3 linked regions of the Homo sapiens genome follow. The protein of the gene in region 1 interacts with the protein of each later gene in a pairwise test. Each region holds a gene or a part of one and is shown in the gene's direction. Other genes may lie near its edges.

Region 1 (2,539 bases):
CTTGACGTAGGTGTTCTCAGCAAGCAGTTTGCATCCCACCGTCTTTCTCACACTTGCCCCCAAGACTTTTGACAGAGCAGACGTAAAACAGGACTCAGAAAACCATTTTTCTCTGTTCCCATATGTAGTAAGTTTTGATTCAGTTGTGCATAAACCATAGTTTTCTGCCCTGCTGTTTGCTTTCAATGGAAGACAGTAAAGGGAAGATGGTGCTCACATCTCTCCATGTGACATCTCATTAGGAATTAAGATGCGATGGATTAGAAATGTAAAACTTCAGAATAAAATTAAATTTCAGGGCTCTATAAGTCCCGTTTTCCCAGGTCCTGTTCCGTTTCTACGTAGATAACCCAATTTGTTTTGTCTATGAAATAAGCCTCTTTAGTGGGTTGTTTTAGTCTCTCCAACAAAAGAGCAGATTCCTAAAGCCAGGTGCAGCACTGTGAAAAGTTTCTTTCAATATGGCACCAAGACTCTACCATTTATGTCTCTCTCAGCTTACAAACATCAGCGTTTTGTCCTTGTCATAGTGGAAGAAAGACACTTACTTTAAGCTTTGGGGACAAAGGTGACAAACCCCAGGCTTTTATCTTAAAAGTGTCTTTGGCACTTCTTTTGGCACTGAAATGGTATTTGGGAAGCATTATTTGAATGTACAGTTGTTTGGTTTTGTATGTGCTTATCTTTATCTGAGCTTTCACTTGTAGACATGGCCTTTTGTTGTGAAGTTGCTCATCATTTAGGAGTGTTTAATTCTAAAAAGCCTTCAGCCTAAGAAAGCTTCATCTGTGGGGACCAGAGACTTGTTGCTCAGGGAGTTAGTGATGGGACTTGGGCATCTGATCTGCAGGTGACAAGTTTAGTTCAACTGAAGTTGTAGGGAATTTAGACAGTTGCACATCATTGCCGTTCTAGGGGCCTTGTAGAAAGATGAAACAGTTGTTTTTCATTTACCAGCACCTCTCAGTTATAGAGGTAATGGAACATTCGCTTACTTTTCATCATCATTCTTTAAAAAGGGAACATACAAAAATCTAAACTATGGCAATAATTTATTTTTATAATAGTTTACGGTAGGCTTTAATTAAATGGCAAACTCCTCTGGGACCCCTAAGTTATGGCGTGATTAGCCAAATTTGATTTCCAACAGTCATTTATGGCCATAACTATTGCATAGAGTGCAGGATGCCAGCAAAGATGAGGGTGGGGGCAGATACTGGCTCAGTGATTTAACTCACATTATAGATGACCCCTTCCTCAACAGAAATGCTACTGAGAGAACCAGAGAGGCCTGGGCCAGGCAGGTCTTATTTGAGAGGAGATTATTTGATAATTGCTTTGGTTAGAAGGACTTTACATTTCCTGATTTCAAGTCCAGCACCAATTTAGAAAGTTCAGAGATGAAACCACCTGTCTTTACCTGACAGAGTCATAACGGTTTGTGTAAAAATGTGGTCAGGGACCTTTTTTGTTCTTTCTGATTAGTTAATACTGTACATTGTAACCAGGAGGGGCAGTTTTGCCAACCAGCCTCTGCTCATGGTCACCATATGTGTATGACAAGGCCTGAGTGAGTTCCTGCATAAACTGGGTAGTGGGCTCTTTTGACACATTTGCAAGCATGTAAATGAATGAATGACACTACCAGCAACCATCTGTACAGGTCCATTTACTTACATTCATAAGGTTTATGCTATGAAACTTCTTCTCATTGTGATGTCAGTAACAGAGTTAGTGTCTCTGATGGAATAGTGTACCTGTCACCCAAGTTATTTTGTTCCTTTTTGGGTCCTCCAGTATAATCCCCCCCTCATCCCAATTAACTGTAAAATGTTTTACACATCACATTTTTTATACTGTAAACTTGGAAAATAAACTGAAATATCAAATTGTGTCTTGTTTCTTTTCTTCATGTGATTATTTCAATCTAAAAAGTTGCTTACTTTTTCAGGGACATTTTTCACTCTCGCATAATTTTGAGACCTTCAGAATTTCAAGACAACCTGTCATATTTCTATAAAAACCAAGACAATTGTGATGGATTGGGAAAGTAGAATTACCATTGTAACAAAAACTACTAGTTGTCAATCATTTTACAGTGAAGAAAATGTTTTGAATAGATAACTAAAAATGAAATCCTCAGGCTCTAAAACATGGAGATGAAACAGATCTTTTGAGTAAACCAGCAAGTGGAAAGGTATTTGAGTCAAATAAGAAGACAGAAAAGTAACAGACTTTGGGTTGATGTGGGAGGTGAATATTGGATTATTTTCCTGAGTGGCTTGGGAATTCAAGTTAAATTATCAACTGATTTTAGATAGGTCTATTTAAAGGAAATTTGATTATTTGCAAAGAAATATGAAGCCTGTTTTCCGCTAACCTCAGTGGTAGAATTTTGACAGCACACAATCAAATTCTTAGCTATTGCATGGACAGAAATTAGAGAAAGCAATTGACTCAAAGATATTCATTGGTTAGATTATTGATAAGCTGTTTCTTTGGGCCATTAAGCAAAATGTACACAATTTATATCTACATA
Region 2 (2,873 bases), on another chromosome or scaffold:
CCCTCACGGCTGGGCTGAGCAAACCCTCCAAAGCCCTCCTCACGCAGTTACTAACAATAGCATGGGCTTACAGCACAAGCACGTGTTCTCACCTTTTTCCTATGCCCTGGACTAAGGTTTGGCCAGTGTAATCATATAAGGCCATCCTGACATTGTTTCTGTGTTTCAAAATTTGGATTTTTATTTACATTAGAACTACATTGCTCCTAGTAGAACATTACCTTTAGGGGACTAATTTTCCATGGAGAACTATTTCAGCATATTGCATGCTGCTCAGACCCCAAGTCAGATATGCCCACCAAGCCAGATGAAGCTACACAAATGTGGTATTTAAATGCATTTTGTACAGTGACTTCAGAGTATCTCACATGACATGGGTGTAAACTGGCTGGGGAGAAAATGATGCTTGTTCACCTCTTCCTCCAGCCGTGGTTAGGTGGTCCTAGGGGTAGCAGAGGGAAGGGAGGATTTTGTGCAGTCAAGATTTGCTTTTCCATCCTTGTCTTCTGAATGTCTAAAATCTCTGCATCTTTCTGAAGTTTAACAACTGTCTCCAGAGGTTTGCCAGGCAGCAGCTCTCAGAAGTTTCCAAAGCTTTGCAGAATCTTAGATCTGGAATTAAAGAATTCAAGCCCGAATTGTGAGAACCAGATATTACTCAACAGAAAGCTCTTTCTAAGGAATCTGAGCTGTTCACTGGTGGACAGTGGTGGGGCTTGAGTGCTCCTTGTTAATAGGATGGGCCATGCACCCTCTCTGGATATTCACCAAGGCCTCTTCAGAATAGGGTTTGTTCTGGCTAGAAGCGTGGTCTAGAAGATGGCTAAGCTCTTTGCCAGCTCTCATTTGGAGTTTTATTATTGCATAAAATCTTCGCTCACTCTGCAAATCTTACGTAATCTGGCACCTTCGGCACCAGGTGGTGCAGGGGCACTTCTAAGTGGGCTCTTTTTGTTACAGCACAACTCTCAGACAGTCCTGTGGGTCTTTGGATTCGTCAGCATTCCAGCAAACTAGCCCTGCTTAGAAGTTAGCACAAGACAGCAGAATGCAGGACCCCGTAGGCAAAATCACAACCTTGCTATTAAAAAAAATTTTGTTTTACATACACATTTGCAGGTGTTCCCTAGAGTGTGGTGTTTTGAATTTGCTCTTTGTCATCTGTATAATTGCCAAATGATTATAGTGATACACATGACCTGCATTCACTTTTTTCTAGTTTCCTTAATTATGTTTAGAATAAATTCATTTCCCTAGACCGAGAACCACAAACAGGTAGTGTGGAGCATACACCGAATTTAGAAGCATGTGGATAAGGTCAGTGCTCACACTGCCTAGTCCACAGGGAGAGGATGCTGCATGAATATATACTTGCCTCTGAGTGGAGGAGAAATCGTGGCATGAAAGAGAGAGTACCAGTGATGACTTCTTATCCCTGGAGCTGGGCTTTCACTGCTACCCATATCCCAGCCCTGCGAGTCTGTTCTAGCCAGCACAGACACCGCAGATCCGGAACTGAATGTTCCTAAATGGCGCAGCCAATCCAGGCTTTTCAGAAACTGGGCAAAAACATTAAAATGGGGACGATCGGGTCTTCCGCAGTGGTCCAACACAGGATTTCTTTTAAATGTTTCAAAAACATGTCCTTAAAATTTCAGCCTGCTTCTTAGCGAGTGGGCCAGTTTTGCTTAAAACTGGTGGGGGGGCGGGGGGGAAGTTTTTAAAAATTGCCAAAAAGTTAGATGCAAATGTATTACTGTATAAAGCAAAGCTGTATATACTAAACATTTTTTAGCAGAGTAATATTTATTTGCATAGTCTATTTATTGTATTCGTATCACACTGTTATTAAATACTGGGATGAAATCAGTGACCTGAAGCAAGAAATCTTGCCTTTTAATGTATCATTAATTAGGGCTGCTGTGATATTGTCAGCTTGCATTAACAATTAGAAGATAGAGAACCCGCCATCAGGGTGTCTACCTAACTTCTCAGGGACTACACTTGGTAGTTTTCCACCATTTAAAGAACTGGTAAATATGAAACATTTGTTGAGTTACCAGAATTGCCATTAACAGTGTTTTCTTTCCCATATTCCATGCTTTCTGCCTCTGTGTATATATATAATATATATGTATATGACTGTGCTGTGTATTTATCGAAGCTAGTAAGCAATAATTTATATGTAAAAATGGCCAAGCAATATAAGGTTAAAACTTATATAAGTAACCCTTACCTTATCTTGTATTTTCAATTTTTTTTTAAAACTGCTTTTCCAAATATGAGACTATGTTAAAGACACTATTCATGCCTCTTAGTTTCTTGCTTTCTCTGTGATGTGTGTGGATTAAATAGCTCTGTTCTGGCAGCATATGATGCTCAGGGGGTTGGAACTCAGAAGTCATTTGCTCACTGAAAGAGCTACAAGTAGATGAAGAGGTTCTCAGGCAGCCCATAGAAGCCTAAATCACTTATCCTGCCATTGGGTTATTGCAGAACCTAAACACCCTATTTTGGAAATTGCATCAGTGTTCTCAGAGTCTGAAATCTGGGGAATCTGGCAACCATTGTCATTGCCTCACCCTACTTGAGCAGGACCAGGAACTGTCCCTCACCAGCCCAGATACTGAGTGCAGCTACCAGCCCAGTGGTGATGCCCGGGGCCCAGGATAGAGGTCCTGACAGCGGAAGAGCCATGAGTGGATGGAGCAGCACAGGGATAATAAGGATGCTCTGGGGCAGTGGGATGCCAGGCGGTATATACACTAGCGCAGACTGAGTGTTCAGCATCTTCTCTCTGTGTAAACAGGAAATTTGTACATCTTGCCCATCGAGGTCAAGTTTGGCCTTTGGCATGTGTCCATCTCCCCCTT
Region 3 (3,663 bases), on another chromosome or scaffold:
TTTTGAATTCTTGATTTGTTTTGTAAAACATTTTCTCTGAATTCCTTTGGCATTTCCTGATGATTTCTCATAATTTAGCAATTTATACAGTGTCTCATATTGTTTATTATTATTTATGTTCCTTGAGGGTTGGAATGGGTGCTTTTCTTTTAGTCTTATTTATTTTTGAGACAAGGTCTCATTCTGTTGCCTGGGCTGGAATGCAATGACATGATGATAGCTCACTGTAGCCTCAAACTCCTGAGCTCAAGTATTCCTCCTGCCTCAGCCTCCCAGGTAGCTGGGAATATAGGCATGAGCCATTATGCCTGGCTAATTTTTTGTTTTCTGTAGAGACAAGACTTTGCTGTGTTGCCCAGGCTGGTCTCAAAATCCTGGGCTCAAGCAATCTTCCCACCTCAGCCTTCCAAAGTGCTGGGATTGCAGGCATGAGCCACCTGACTAGCTGGTCTCTTTAAAAATTAGTTGCACTTGACTAAGAGAAAGAGAGACCCCAAAACAGTGGCTTCAGTAAACAGTAAATTTTATTTTTCTAATGGAATGACAATTCCAAAAAACAGGCAGTTGCTTGTGTTAATTAGGGCCATAAGGATACCAAGGCATAGGTCTTTGACATTTCCCTTGTCTTTTCTTCATGGTCGTGAGATGGTCGTTCCAGTCATGGCCAATGCGTCCATGTTTCAGGCAGCAGAAAGGTGGAATCAGGGAAGAAAATACCTATTTCAGTCAAGCTGAATTTTCTGCTTACAGATAATTGGAGAGAACAAGGTTATATGGCTACCCTTATGTAAGTGAAGTTGAAGAATTGTTTTCTGATTGAGCACATTTGCCACCTTCCAACAAAAATGAGATATTATTAGTAAGAAAGAAAGGGAGAGAGTCCATTAATTGGTTACTTATAATACAGCAGTAGAGAACACAAACTCAGAACAGCTTCTGTCTTCTTTTTTTTTTTTTCCGACACCAAGTCTCGCTTTGTGCTGGAGCGCAGTAGCATGATCTCAGCTCACTGCAACCTCTGCCTCCCAGGTTCAAGCAATTCTCATGCCTCAGTCTCCCGAGTAGCTGGGACTATAGACAGGCACCACCACGCCCAGCTAATTTTTGTATTTTTAGGAGAGATGAGGTTTCTCCATATTTGCCAGGCTGGTCTTGAACTCCTGACCTCAGGTGATCCGCCCGCCTTGGCCTCCCAAAATGCTGGGATTACAGGTGTGAGCCACCATGCCCGATAGCATGTATCTTTTGTTTACCCCGAGTAAAGATATATTCATTCACACTTGAAATATCTAGATTTTAAGTAGCTCTCAACACATAGCCACCTCCTTTGTATGTCCTAGTGAGATGTGGAAGCTAATCTCCCAATTATGTGTCACAACTAGCTTCAAAACTATAGACCTAACAGTACTCCAAAATGAATGCAGATTGAGCATCCCTAATCTGAAAATCTGAAATCCAAAACTCTTCAAAATCTGAAGCTTTTTGAACGCTGACATGATGCCACACAAGTGGCTGAGATATTGACACCTTTGCTTTCTGATGGTTAAGAGTACACAAATTTGTTTTAGCCACAAAATTGTGTAAAATATTTTATAAAATTACTTTTAGGCCATGTATATAAGGTAGATGTGAAACATAAATGAATTTCATATTTAAACTTGGGCACCATCCCCAAGATATAATGTATGTGCAAATATTCCAAAATCCCAAAATACCCGAAATCTGGTCCCAAGCAGTTTGGGTAAAGGATACTCTCAACCTGTGTAAGGTTGTGAGACATAGCAACAAAAGGCTATGTGATAAAGAAACAGGAAATGACATTGCATAATGATTCATGGCTGTGGTGATGTTTGAAGGATAAAAATCATGATTGTTCCAGTTTGAAAAACAGAGAAATACATTAAATTCTTTTTTTTTTTTTTTGAGGCAGGGTCTTACTCTGCCACCCAGGCTGGAGTGCAGTGGCACCATCATGGCTCACTGCAGCTTTGACCTGCTTGACTCAAGTGATCCTCCTACTTCAGCCTCCCAGGTAGCTGGGACTACAGGTGCATGCCACCATGCCTGGCTTATTTTTGTATTTTTTGTAGAGATGGGGTTTTGCCATGTTGCCCACCTGGTCTCAAACTCCTGGCTTAAGCGATCCTCCTACCTCTACCTCCCAAAGTGCTGGGATTACAGACATGTGCCACCATGCCCAGCCCATTAAACTCAACATTATCAAAGGCTATATTCAAGATGATCTTGAATTCCCAAATTTGTAAACGTGGAAATGTTTGTACCAGGCATGTATGACTTTGTCCTTTCAAATCATGTTTGTCAGGTTTCCTGTAGATTATCCATATGCCACAAGTTAACCACATTTTCAACTTTAATGCAAAGTTGTTCTCTTATCTAGTGAGCTACTTGTATATTAGCTAGAAACAGCTCCTTCCTGAAACAGTTTTAGCTTTACAATTTTTTTTCTCTTTCCTTTTGTTGTGAATTCATTTACCTAACAGATGGAGTCCCCTTTGAACTGGATACTTAATTTTAAATTTATTCACAAATTTTTTTCTGACTAAAAGCCATTACTTCTTTCTTTCTTTCTTTCAGTCATTTATTTATTTATTTTAAGAAATGGGATCACAGTCTGTGAGCCAGGCTGGAGTGCAGTGGTACAATCATAGCTCATTGCAACCTCGACCTCCTGGGCTCAAACCGTCTTCCCCCCTCAGCCTCCCAAGTAGCTGGGATTACAGACATGTGCCACCATGCCTGACTAATTTTATTTTTAGAGACAGGGTCTTGTGGCTGGGCACGGTGGCTCACGCCTGTAATCCCAGCACTTTGGGAGGCCAAGGTGGGCAGATCTTGAGGTCAGGAGTTCTGGAGCAGCCTGGCCAACATGGTGAAACCCTGTCTCTACTAAAAATACAAAAATTAGCCAGGCGTGGTGGCACAAACCTGTAATCCCAGCTACTCAGGAGGCTGTGGCAGGAGAATTACTTGAACCCGGGAGGCAGAGGTTGCCGTGAGCCAAAATTACACCATTGCACTCCAGCTCTGGGCAACAGAGCAAGACTCTGTCTCGAAAAAAAACAAAAACAAAAACAGACAGTGTCTTGTTATGTTGCCCAGGCTCATTACATCTTTAGATCCTTTTACTTTCTTCACCTCGGTTACCAATACTAGCCATTGATTGGCGGGCAAGAGGTGGGCATTTTTTCCTACAATACAGCAATTTTTTACAACCTGGCTAAGGCTCCTAAGAGCTGGTTATATAAACCATGACAACTAGAGAAGGATGAAACCTTATTTTGAAATACAGGATCCCATATACTAGTGTTTTACACCAATGGTACTCAAAGAGTGGTCCCAGACCATGGCATCAACATTGAGCAGGAACTTGTTATATATGCGAGTTATCTAGTCCTACTCCAGACAAACAATCAGAAACTTTGAGGTTGGACCCAGCAGTCTGTTTTAACAAGCCTGCAGGTGATTGTGATGTGTGCTAAAGCTTGAGAATCATTTAAGTAAACAATTAAAATTCTTACTACAGCAAAATGCAAATTTTATGTGTAACAAAACTTCCAGGTTACTTGCTCACAAATAATAGAATCGGTGCTGCCAGACAATTACTGTATAAAGAGAGAGTGATGAGGATATAGAAAAATAGGT

What was found.
Region 2: the proteins of VANGL1 (region 1) and RAPGEF5 interact in a two-hybrid assay, tested with the Homo sapiens proteins (one large-scale study listed by BioGRID and IntAct).
Region 3: the proteins of VANGL1 (region 1) and NT5C3A interact in a two-hybrid assay, tested with the Homo sapiens proteins (one large-scale study listed by BioGRID and IntAct).

The regions. Positions count from the first base shown.
Region 1 is NC_000001.11:115,696,333-115,698,871, forward strand, and holds the end of VANGL1 (vang-like protein 1), read left to right. Parts: 3' UTR 1-1,889; downstream 1,890-2,539.
Region 2 is NC_000007.14:22,117,734-22,120,606, reverse strand, and holds the end of RAPGEF5 (rap guanine nucleotide exchange factor 5), read left to right. Parts: 3' UTR 1-2,371; downstream 2,372-2,873. UniProt on the Homo sapiens protein: Guanine nucleotide exchange factor (GEF) for RAP1A, RAP2A and MRAS/M-Ras-GTP. Its association with MRAS inhibits Rap1 activation.
Region 3 is NC_000007.14:33,052,614-33,056,276, reverse strand, and holds part of NT5C3A (cytosolic 5'-nucleotidase 3A), read left to right. Parts: intron 1-3,663. UniProt on the Homo sapiens protein: Nucleotidase which shows specific activity towards cytidine monophosphate (CMP) and 7-methylguanosine monophosphate (m(7)GMP). CMP seems to be the preferred substrate.